Homo sapiens: one gene and its partner. The protein of the gene in region 1 interacts with the protein of each later gene in a pairwise test. Each region holds a gene or a part of one and is shown on either strand. Other genes may lie near its edges.

Region 1 (5,849 bases):
TGTCTTAGGTGATTTTGTTTTGTAGGAATTGCATGAAATAATTGAAATAGGAATAAATCTGAAGTCACTTCGGGCTTGCAAAAAAAAATTGTATGCAAAATTATAGTAACATATATAATATGTATATAATATATAATACATATAATAGTTATATATTAACATTATGTTAATGTTAACTCACCAGTGTAGTAAAATCTGTAACAGAACATAATTCCTGGATAACTGAAGGTTTTGAATAGTCCTTGGGTATTTGGCATAGAAGGATTTAATCTGATTTTTAAAATTTGTTGACTTTTTTTTTTTTCAGAAATGGATTGACTTGCACCTAAATGAAATTACTTATCTAATGATCTCTTGGACTTAAAGCACTTTGTTTCTGCAGTTACTTCGCATGAGTGTTTACTGCCTCTCAGTCAGCATTCTTTACAGTATTAATACACAGAGAAGGAAGGACCAGCTGCATTAGAATCACTGTAACTTGTTGAAAATCCACATTTCCAGACTTAACACCCAGATATTCTAATTCAGTACGTCTGAGTGAGGTCCAGGATTCTATATTTTTAACAAACATCCCAGGTGATTTGCATGAAGACCAATGTCTGAGAACCACTGCTTACAGGAATCAGAGTACTTTGCTGGCATCTTTGAGCTCTTAGGGTCCTAAACTACCTGCTTTCTTTTCACTTGTCTTAGCTTTCTAAACTTGGAATTAGGAGGCTTATTCAAGTCCTGGTTCTTCCACTTTCTGGCTAGCAATCTTGGGCAAGTCACTTAAATTCTGCAACTGTTTCCTCATCTGTACAATGAGAACAGTGATGTGTTCACTGCCCAGCCTCCAACATATTTGTGATTAAAGAAAAACGAGATAAGATAGTAATTTTCCATTATAAAGTACTCCACACTGTTAAGTTTGTTGCTTTTTTTTTTTTTCCTGTTTCCCAAGATTATTGTCTTGGGTCACTGGCCTTTTGGGTGGCAGGTCCTAAAGGAGGAGGAGTCCTTGACCAGAGTACTTCCAGGTAGTACTCTGAATTTACAACAGGGCTATTCAAATAGTGCTCATACTCCTTATCATTAGGGTGTCTGGATGAAACATACCTCTGCTTCTGATTTCTTAAATAGTTTTGTTTTATATATTGTGCTATGATTTAGCTCCAGCGGCGCCATGAGCAAATGAAAAAGAATTTGGAAGCACAGCACAAAGAATTGGAGGAAAAACGTCGTCAGTTCGAGGATGAGAAAGCAAACTGGGAAGCTCAACAACGTATTTTAGAACAACAGAACTCTTCAAGGTAACTAATAGCAGATTACTAAGAAATGTGTGTATTAATGTTTTAAAGAATTGTTTTCCTACTTATTTAAAAAACATTAGAATAACACTTAAAAAGTCATCACCCATTATCATGCATTCCAAACACAATGGTTTTCATAGATAAATATTTTTATATGGATGGATACAGTCTGTGTCCATTAGCAGTATTTTTTCAGTACATCTTTCATGACTTAATATTCATAATTATGATTTAGCAACTTCATAACATTCTCCCCAGTTAACTTACCTTCATTGGATTTCTTACCTCCTCCCCCCAGTTGTTGGACATAAGGGTTGTTTTCAATTTTTGGCACACAAAGGGAACATTCTTCAAAATCTATTACATATTTAGGGGTATGTTTTAACTGTTGAATTATGTTTTTACGATAAAATTCTTAAGACAAAATGTTAGATATTTGATTTCCAATACAACTAATCAATTACTTTCTCTTAATTTATACAAAATTCAATAATATTTGTACCTTGGTTTTCTTTTCCTTAATAGTTTCACTTAAAACTGAAAAGTGGCATTCCTATAAGGATTATATAGTTTATCCTCATTACTAAACATTTTCAGATTTGACATTTGTTCTACTACACTACCCTACTGTTAACATTTTCCCCAAAGAAGAGGAAAATAGATTTGTGAAAGCAATTGCACTTCAAAATGCAAATGACAGTGGGGGAAAAAGAATACCCTGTTTGCTGCCAGTTGATACTTTTTAGTTTGTGCTGTTTCATTTGGGAAGAATTGTTCTTGTATATTAAAATGGAGTTTTGCCTTATTTTTTTACTGCTTATCCTGGAGTTTTGTCAAATATTTGATTGTCTAAGAAAATGCTATTATAGATTAACATTGTCTTAGCTGTTTACTTCTAAATCTTTTAATTTTTTTCAGTGAAAAAGTAGTATCTGAAAATCCCAACATTGTTGTAATTGGGTTAGCTGTTGTTATCATGTTGTCTATCATGTTTATAAAATGGTTACTCATCTTGCTTATTTTCCTTTTATCCTTTAGAACCTTGGAAAAGAACAAGAAGAAAGGGAAGATCTTTTAAACTCTCTATTGACCACCAGTTAACGTATTAGTTGCCAATATGCCAGCTTGGACATCAGTGTTTGTTGGATCCGTTTGACCAATTTGCACCAGTTTTATCCATAATGATGGATTTAACAGCATGACAAAAATTATTTTTTTTTTTGTTCTTGATGGAGATTAAGATGCCTTGAATTGTCTAGGGTGTTCTGTACTTAGAAAGTAAGAGCTCTAAGTACCTTTCCTACATTTTCTTTTTTTATTAAACAGATATCTTCAGTTTAATGCAAGAGAACATTTTACTGTTGTACAATCATGTTCTGGTGGTTTGATTGTTTACAGGATATTCCAAAATAAAAGGACTCTGGAAGATTTTCATTGAGGATAAATTGCCATAATATGATGCAAACTGTGCTTCTCTATGATAATTACAATACAAAGGTTCCATTCAGTGCAGCATATACAATAATGTAATTTAGTCTAACACAGTTGACCCTATTTTTTGACACTTCCATTGTTTAAAAATACACATGGAAAAAAAAAAAACCCTATATGCTTACTGTGCACCTAGAGCTTTTTTATAACAACGTCTTTTTGTTTGTTTGTTTTGGATTCTTTAAATATATATTATTCTCATTTAGTGCCCTCTTTAGCCAGAATCTCATTACTGCTTCATTTTTGTAATAACATTTAATTTAGATATTTTCCATATATTGGCACTGCTAAAATAGAATATAGCATCTTTCATATGGTAGGAACCAACAAGGAAACTTTCCTTTAACTCCCTTTTTACACTTTATGGTAAGTAGCAGGGGGGGAAATGCATTTATAGATCATTTCTAGGCAAAATTGTGAAGCTAATGACCAACCTGTTTCTACCTATATGCAGTCTCTTTATTTTACTAGAAATGGGAATCATGGCCTCTTGAAGAGAAAAAAGTCACCATTCTGCATTTAGCTGTATTCATATATTGCATTTCTGTATTTTTTGTTTGTATTGTAAAAAATTCACATAATAAACGATGTTGTGATGTAATATTGTGTGAGGTCTTAAATATCCTACAGTCGATGTACAAGAGTAGAGTATGTTTGGGAAGAAACTTTTCAGCTTAAGTTTGCCTCCTCTACAATGACATCTTTTATATGCTTGTCTCATTTAGAATGCATATGTGCTGATTTTCTAATTTAAGAGATACCATATCTCTCTATTCATTTCTATCTCTCATTTGTATGCTTATTTTTCTGAGAACATTTTTTTTTTCCCCCAGACAGGGTCTTGCTTCATTGCCCAGGCTGGAGTGCGGTGGCACAAACACGACTTGACTGCAGCCTCAACCCTCTGGGCTCAAGCAGTCCTCCTGCCTCAGCCCCCTGAGTATCTGGGATTGCAGGCGTGCACCACCACGCCTGGCTAATTTTTGTATTTTTTGCAGCCTCCCAAAGTTCTGGGATTACAGGCATGAGCCGTCATGCCTGGCCTCTGAGAACAGTTTCTGACTCATTCAGATTAGGTATACTCTCAAGTCCCTGGAAACTGAAATTTTTTTTAACTGTAAAGAGGGTAGTGTCATTTCTTTTCTTAAGGTCAAGTGACATAGATTTTAATGTAATGCATAATTTAGGTAAGAAATTAATTAATGTAGCCTAGTTTATTATCTTGAAATGTTTTACCCTATTTACTTTTTAAAATTAATGACCTAAGCGGAGGGAATAATTATAAGTCAATAGCAGAGAGATTGTTGTTTGGGTGTTTATTTTTTTCAGTTTTTGTTTTGAGAGATTGGGTTAACACCTCTAGCCAAAATTGTTTGGTTTTAGGGAGGCTAACAATAACCTACTGAATTTGGAAAATGCAAAGGTAAAAAATGTATATAGACTGCCTGCTGAACTGGTTAAGTACTACTGCTTCTGGGAAATACTATTTCAAAATTCTATGTATTATAATAATAAATTTGTAAGACATTCATTATTCTACCATCCTAATGAAAACTTTCAGAAGTCTTTCTTTATCCATGGCATGCCCAGGGTTTTACCTGAATCTGATACAGGATCTATATAACTTTACTAGGACTTTTGATTGTTGACTCCAGGCTTAGGTATATCAGAAGGTTCTTTTTGCCATTTGGCCTGTGGATGTCTGAGAAGATCATTCACAATACATGTAAAATTCAGGTAGGCCTAAGGAAAGGCCAGCCTGTAGAAAGCAAAATGGCAGTGTCTGTTCTCCACTGTTGGAGGCATTATGTAATTTAAGTATCCTGTTAGCCACTGTCTTTCTGCTAATTAAGTGGGGCTGAACAAGTAAGCACTAATAATACCAGTGAACCACTTGGGCACCTTGTGGGTAGAGTTTTGCTGCCACCTAGTGGAATGGGATATCATTGCTTCCATATCAGGTTCACAAGCAAGTTAAGTGGGCACAGTTTATTTCTGTGTAGCTCAGGCTGTAATCTTGAAAGCTGAGGAGATACCCATGCCTCTCAGACTCATTAGCTGGGTGTCACATTACCACCTGCACATTCTGACCCACCGCATCTTAATATGTTTTGTCCTCTTGGAGAAACTAGGAGTAGAAGTCAGGATATGGTAGGTAAGGGGGAAAAAGGAAAGACGGCTTGATAGCTATGAATGCATGAGGAGCGAAATGTTGACTCAGTTATCTAGATCATGGTCTCCAAACCTGATGCTATTTCCTTACAAAAATATTTGTTGAGCATGTGTCCATAATTATATGTATTGAACAATGAAAATATGTGTCAACAAATGTACTGCTACACTAATGTGAACATTATGGAACAAAATTTGAAAGAGTGAAATAAAAGGTTTACACTTTCCCCAAGCTCCAATGAATTATTACTTTGCACGTTGGAGGCCATCGATCTAGGCAGTATGTGGATAGTTAATAGTTATTGTTGAATCACCAAGGAAGGTCCTAGTGAAGACTGCTGTGGTGTCCTACTTGATCTGAAAGGAAAATTTGCCACACCAGTAAATCGAAGTCCTTTCTAATAATAAGCTTGCAAATGTAAGCCCTTGTACTTCATCCAGAATTTTACCTGCCCCTTTTGTAATAAAAACTTCCCATAACTGTCCTGTTCCAGATGGTAACCTAAGTAGTTACATGTGTTATTTAATCCTTAATGATAACAATTGGGTAAGTTATCTCTTAAGGTAACTTATTAATACATTATCTAATAAATGAATAAGTTAAACATCTTAAACCCTGTTTCCTCATCTGCAAAAGGATGAGGAAACTGAGGGTTTAAGATGTTTAGTAGCTTATTCAATAGGTGGTAACTGGCAGAACAAGAGTTTGAACTGGTCTTAGTTACACCAGGGCCTGTGCTTAAATATTACGCCTTGCAAGTACCTGGTCTGCTACACTGCCACATTTCTGAAGCATGATCTTCTACAGAGTTGTTAGCACAGAGCAGATGCTCCCTGATTAAGAGGGGCAGCTGGCCACCAGGCAGCCTGGAGAAGCAGAAAGCACCAGACATG
Region 2 (7,295 bases), on another chromosome or scaffold:
CATCATATCTATCTTTGTCCTTGAAGTATAAGTCTCAAAAAGAGAGAGATCCTGTAAGTCTCATCATTTTGTCTCCAGCCTCGAATAAGATGCTGACAACACAGTGAGACCTCAATTTTTAAAAAGCATTAAATGCCTGAATAATGGAAGAGTGGGAGAATGGAGAGATTGCTCTGTAAATGAGGCACTGAATCCTGCCTTAATTGTTTTAGAAAGCATCCTGATTTATTTTCCCCTAAAACACAATATCTCTGGATATCAACTGTACTGTTTTATGATTCTCTTAAGATCCAGGAGTCTCAAAGCAAACAAGAACAGTCCTTAAATATGAAAGAAAAAGACAATGAAACTACCAAAATCGTGAGTGAGATGGAGCAATTCAAACCCAAAGATTCAGCACTACTAAGGATAGAAATAGAAATGCTCGGATTGTCCAAAAGACTTCAAGAAAGTCATGATGAAATGAAATCTGTAGCTAAGGAGAAAGATGACCTACAGAGGCTGCAAGAAGTTCTTCAATCTGAAAGTGACCAGCTCAAAGAAAACATAAAAGAAATTGTAGCTAAAGTAGGTTTCATCTTTCACCATGTTTTTAAAAAATATTTTGTAACCAAATATTATTATAAACCCTAAATATTTGGAAAGGGGAGTTAATTACAACAAAATAGTTATAATGTTTCTATAAATTTATTGGAATTTCCTCTAATAATAAAGCACCTGGAAACTGAAGAGGAACTTAAAGTTGCTCATTGTTGCCTGAAAGAACAAGAGGAAACTATTAATGAGTTAAGAGTGAATCTTTCAGAGAAGGAAACTGAAATATCAACCATTCAAAAGCAGTTAGAAGCAATCAATGATAAATTACAGAACAAGGTAAATTGGGGATGAAGAAACAGTGGGAGGAAATGGGTGGGTTTGGAGTAGCTAACTGAATTATGAAGACTACTATTTGGCATGCTTAATTGTTTTGGGAAGCAACCTTTTCCTCTTAAGTTGTGTATGTGTGTGTGTGTGTTTACATATTTTTATGACTATTAACTTATTTTATAATTATGTTTAAGATCCAAGAGATTTATGAGAAAGAGGAACAATTTAATATAAAACAAATTAGTGAGGTTCAGGAAAAAGTGAATGAACTGAAACAATTCAAGGAGCATCGCAAAGCCAAGGATTCAGCACTACAAAGTATAGAAAGTAAGATGCTCGAGTTGACCAACAGACTTCAAGAAAGTCAAGAAGAAATACAAATTATGATTAAGGAAAAAGAGGAAATGAAAAGAGTACAGGAGGCCCTTCAGATAGAGAGAGACCAACTGAAAGAAAACACTAAAGAAATTGTAGCTAAAGTAAGTTCCCATCTTATTTTTTTTTTTTTTGGATACAGAAATAGTGTTAAGGTGATAATGACGGTGTTCATGTTAAGTTTTATTAATTTTCCTCTAATCATAAAGGGACCGGAAATAAAAGAGGAATCAAAAACTGCTTATATTCAACTGAGTACCAGTAAACTGTTAGTAGACAGAATATTTCAGAGAAGACAGCTCAAGTAGCAAATATTCATTGGGATTTAGGAAATTCTGATGGTGAATTACAGGAAAAAGTGGGACTTGTTAAATTGGAAAATGACATCTAATTATTGTTACTCATATCCCTTATGAAAGAAAGTACTACATACATTAGATTACAATGTAAAAATGATTGCCTTATTTTAGGAACAGTTCTTCCTTTTCCTAAAAAAATTCTGCCTATGTTGTAACTTACTTTATAATTTTCTCAGATGAAAGAATCTCAAGAAAAAGAATATCAGTTTCTTAAGATGACAGCTGTCAATGAGACTCAGGAGAAAATGTGTGAAATAGAACACTTGAAGGAGCAATTTGAGACCCAGAAGTTAAACCTGGAAAACATAGAAACGGAGAATATAAGGTTGACTCAGATACTACATGAAAACCTTGAAGAAATGAGATCTGTAACAAAAGAAAGAGATGACCTTAGGAGTGTGGAGGAGACTCTCAAAGTAGAGAGAGACCAGCTCAAGGAAAACCTTAGAGAAACTATAACTAGAGTGAGTTACCATCTCTCTACACCTCTAGTAACTATGACATTGAGTCCTAAGAGAAAAATCTGCCATAGGGTTGGTGGGAGTATAAAATTGGTCCAGGCCGGGCGCGGTGGCTCGAGCCGGTAATCCCAGCACTTTGGGAGGCCAGGGCGGGCAGATCACGAGGTCAGGAGATCAAGACCATCCTGGCTAACATGGTGAAACGCCATCTCTACTAAAAACATAAAAAATTAGGCAGGCGTGGTGGTGGGCGCCTGTAGTCCCAGCTACTTGGGAGGCTGAGACAGGAGAATGGCGTGAACCCAGGAGGCGGAGGTTGCAGTGAGCCAAGATCGCACCACTGCACTCCAGCCTGGGCGACAGAGCAAGACTCCATCTCAAAAAGTAAAATAAAATAAAAAATAATAAAATAAGATAAAATTGGTCCAATATTGAGGAAAGTTGGTGAGGGTATATTTGGAAATACCTTCCAAATTTTTCCAAAGGTTTATTCGTTGATCCACAAGTCCAGTTGTAACTATCCTCCACACATTTGCACAACTGTATAAAGATATTTGTAGGATATTCTTTGCAACAAGTTGCAATAATGAAATAACACAAACAAAAACAGGGAAAATTCTAACCATCCATTGGTAAGGGACTGGTTAAATAAGTGCAGCACATTCACGTCATGGAATTCTATGCCACAAATAAAAAATGTGGTAGAGCTATAGTGCTGATTTGAAGGGTGAAGTGTCCTGTTAGGGAACAGGGTAAGTTCAGGAATAGTGTATCTAGAATGTATTGACATCTAAAAGTAGCTTAGAGGGTGAGAACTAGGAGGCCTCAGAAGAGGGTGGAAGATTTTTACCTCCTGCCCTATACCTTTCTATAGCATGTGGATGGTACTACTCTCAATGTATTATTTTTATTTTTCTATTGATAAAGGACCTAGAAAAACAAGAGGAGCTAAAAATTGTTCACATGCATCTGAAGGAGCACCAAGAAACTATTGATAAACTAAGAGGGATTGTTTCAGAGAAAACAAATGAAATATCAAATATGCAAAAGGACTTAGAACACTCAAATGATGCCTTAAAAGCACAGGTATTTTATTTTTAAGTTATCTCAGTTACTGAGAGTTTGAATCAAACTTTTTGTGTAATGAAACAAGATATGAATTACCCTAAAATTGAAGGCAAGTGAAGACTTACTTGCCTACTCAATTTAGAAACTATCATTGATCTTTTTATATCTACTGATAATCCTAACTTATTGTATGATTATCTCAAGATCCAAGAACTTCAGGAGAAAGAACATCAACTTCTTTTTTTTTTTTTTTTTTTTTTTTGAGACAGAGTCTCGCTCTGTCGCCTGGAGTGCAACGGCATGATCTCGGCTCACTGCAATGTCTGCCTCCCGGGTTCAAGCGATTCTCCTGCCTCAAGTCTCCCAAGTAACTAGGATTACAGATGCATGTCATCACACCCAGCTAATTTTTGTATTTTTAGTAGAGAGGAGGTTTCACCGTGTTGACCAGGGTGGTCTCGATCTCCTGACCTCATGATCCACCCGCCTCGGCCTCCCAAAGTGCTGGGATTACAGGCATGAGCCGCCAGGCCCAGCCTCAACTTCTTAAAGTAAAAAATGATCTTAGGGAAACTATGTATCAAACAGGTCAGTTAAAGAAGCAGTTAGAGGCCTGGAATGTAACTCTGGAAAGTGTAGAAACGCAGAAATTAAGATTGACTCAGAAGCTTCATGAAAACCTTCAGGATGTAAGATTTGTTACTAAGGAAAATGATGGCCTAAGAGGAGTAGAGGAAATCTTTAAAATGGAGCAAGACCAACTTAGGGAAGGCCTTAGAGAAATAGAAGCTAAAGTAAGCTCATTCCTCTCCCTGGCAATTCAATGTATTGTGTTCTTACAGCAATGAACCCTTCTTTGAACCAAGTACTACTGTTGGCAAGAATGAAATGATACAGCCTTTTAAGCAGATAATTTGGTACTGTTCTTGAAAAGTTCAAGTCTGCAATTATCATTTTCCTTACGGACTTTAGCCTACATATATACTGTTAAAGGAGTGTGTGTGTATATACAAACACAACGTATACATATGCCACAGGTTATTTATTGTAGTGATTTTAATTAAAAATCTGAAACAATCTAAATGTTCCTCAGAAGGAAACAGTAAATATGAACAATATATCGAAATACTATGCAACACTTAAAAAAAGTAATATATGTGTAATGTGTTTGCCTCTGGAAAGCAGAAGTAGAGTGTGAAGAGAGGAGGACAGGGAAGAGAAAGCCTGTACCTTAAAAACAACAGCAAAGATATAGAGTAACAGTGTTATTATTTTTACTAAGAAAATATATCACTTTATTTTTTAAAAACTAATATTAAGATATGTCACTGTTTTTAAAATTTCTCTAATGGTAAAGGATCTGAAAATACAAGAGGAACTAAGAATTGCTCACATGCATCTGAAAGAGCAGCAGGAAACTATTGACAAACTCAGAGGAATTGTTTCTGAGAAGACAGATAAACTATCAAATATGCAAAAAGATTTAGAAAATTCAAATGCTAAATTACAAGAAAAGGTATTTTTATGGGGGGATTGTTTGATTGGATATCTAATTTGTTTGTGCCTAAAATTGTTGGGGATATAAAATGGTTCAACCACACTGGAAAACACCTTGGCAGTATTTACTAATGCTGGATGTAGCCTGCCTGAGGCCCAACATTTCCACTTCTTGGGTATGTACATAAGAGAAAAGAGTACGTACATACTTCTATAAAAAGACACAAGAATGTTTATAGCAGCCTTATTCAAAATAACAAAAAACTGAAAACTCAAATGTCTATCAGCAGGAAAATGGATACATACATTGTGATATATAGGTTCAAAAGCAGGCAAAACTGAACCAGGATGATAAAGGTCAGAATAGTGGCTGTCTCTAGGAAGGAGCACACAGAAACTTTATGAAGTGCTAGAAATATTCTCTGTTTTAATCTGGGTTGTAGTTTCATAGATTTACACCTGTGTCAAGAATAATTAAGTTATACATTGAAGATGAGCATGCTTTATATATATTATACCTCAAAAGAAAGTAAAATTCTGTGTGGAATTGTGCAGGATATCAGTGAGAGTAACATGGGTAGACAGTTGTCTTAATCAATTTAGAAACTATTATTTATCTGTCCCTAAAAAGCCACCTAACATATTATTTTATGATTATCTTAAGATTCAAGAACTTAAGGCAAATGAACATCAACTTATTACGTTAAAAAAAGATGTCAATGAGACACAGAAAAAAGTGTCTGAAATGGAGCAACTAAAGAAACAAATAAAAGACCAAAGCTTAACTCTGAGTAAATTAGAAATAGAGAATTTAAATTTGGCTCAGAAACTTCATGAAAACCTTGAAGAAATGAAATCTGTAATGAAAGAAAGAGATAATCTAAGAAGAGTAGAGGAGACACTCAAACTGGAGAGAGACCAACTCAAGGAAAGCCTGCAAGAAACCAAAGCTAGAGTGAGTTGTGTTCTCTCTTTACCCTACCATTATATTCACATATTTGGGCAAAAATACAGTGTTCACTGCAGCGTTGTGTCTGGTGACTAAAACCTAGAAATAATCTAAGTGTCCACCAATAATAAGGCACTATCTGTATAATGGAAAACTAAGCATAAGAATGGGGTATTCTTTTTGTGATATTGATTTAGAAAGATGTCCAAGTGGTATGAAAGGAGAAGGCTATGGGTGAGGCTACCAGCAGAAAATTTTACTTTACTCTTCTAATTTAGGAGGTTGTATAATGGTTGTTTTTAACTGTGAGTGTATAATTTTTAAGATTTTGTTTAAACTCAATCATTAAGTAAAGGTAACGTGCCTTTATATCATTACATTTCTTGATTTCTTCTAACCATAAAGGATCTGGAAATACAACAGGAACTAAAAACTGCTCGTATGCTATCAAAAGAACACAAAGAAACTGTTGATAAACTTAGAGAAAAAATTTCAGAAAAGACAATTCAAATTTCAGACATTCAAAAGGATTTAGATAAATCAAAAGATGAATTACAGAAAAAGGTATGTGTTGTTTTGTTCTTCTTTTGGAAGTAACTGTGCCCAAAATTATTTGTGGAATTAAAAAGATATAGATACAGATATGTAGATAGATATGTGCATATAGAACACAAGTAGACACTATTTGCCTTCCTTGAAGAAACTGCTTACATTCTAACTTGTTTTACAATTATCTCAAGATCCAAGAACTTCAGAAAAAAGAACTTCAACTGCTTAGAGTGAAAGAAGATGTCAATATGAGTCATAAAAAAATTAATGAAATGGAACAGTTGAAGAAGCAATTTGAGGCCCAAAACTTATCTATGCAAAGTGTGAGAATGGATAACTTCCAGTTGACTAAGAAACTTCATGAAAGCCTTGAAGAAATAAGAATTGTAGCTAAAGAAAGAGATGAGCTAAGGAGGATAAAAGAATCTCTCAAAATGGAAAGGGACCAATTCATAGCAACCTTAAGGGAAATGATAGCTAGAGTGAGTTCAGAGTCTTCCTTTGTGTAGTAACTATTAATAAGAATTAAGCTTTTTTGAAAAGAATTACAATGTTTTTATTTCTTTCTCTGGAAATTCCTATGAACAGTAAAGGACAGTGGGAAATGGTTACTCTAATTTTTACACAATAGAAAACAGTTTTAAAAGAAGCAAAAATATTTTCAGAAAATAACATTTAATTCTTTATTTTTATAAACTGTGTTAAAGCAGTCTATTTCCCTTAATATAACATTTTAAAGTTTTTTTTAATCAAGAGATAGCATTATTCTAAATGGAGAAATATTTGAAGGATTAGATTTGTAAGAGAGCAAATATTCCCATTTCTCTACCTATACATGCTGGAGTTCTAGAGTTGGGCTCTTATTGGTGAAGTTAAAAGGAAAAAAGGGAAGATAAATATAAAAATTAAGTTCCTCTGGTATGACTATTTATAGATATTCAGAATCATATATCTTAAAATATCTAATTAAATCCTCTTTTTGAAAGTAACAGAGTTCAGACAAGTTTATTAAAATCTGTAAAAATCTTTTTTATTCTCATATTTCTTTATGTGGGCCTGAACTAAATTTATAGAGAGATTTAATTCATTCATCAAATATTCTTCTAGGTACTGTAGTGAACAAGATAAGTGGGAGAAAATGTTTTTGTTTCACTTTATACTTTTTAATCA

What was found.
Region 2: the proteins of SEPTIN7 (region 1) and CENPE interact in a two-hybrid assay, tested with the Homo sapiens proteins (one study listed by BioGRID).

Annotation. Positions count from the first base shown.
Region 1 is NC_000007.14:35,901,924-35,907,772, forward strand, and holds the end of SEPTIN7 (septin-7), read left to right. Parts: intron 1-1,152; coding exon 1,153-1,292; intron 1,293-2,330; coding exon 2,331-2,370; 3' UTR 2,371-5,187; downstream 5,188-5,849.
Region 2 is NC_000004.12:103,139,101-103,146,395, reverse strand, and holds part of CENPE (centromere-associated protein E isoform 1 precursor), read left to right. Parts: intron 1-288; coding exon 289-567; intron 568-714; coding exon 715-873; intron 874-1,061; coding exon 1,062-1,346; intron 1,347-1,777; coding exon 1,778-2,065; intron 2,066-2,989; coding exon 2,990-3,148; intron 3,149-4,487; coding exon 4,488-4,646; intron 4,647-5,291; coding exon 5,292-5,582; intron 5,583-5,981; coding exon 5,982-6,140; intron 6,141-6,316; coding exon 6,317-6,607; intron 6,608-7,295. UniProt on the Homo sapiens protein: Microtubule plus-end-directed kinetochore motor which plays an important role in chromosome congression, microtubule-kinetochore conjugation and spindle assembly checkpoint activation.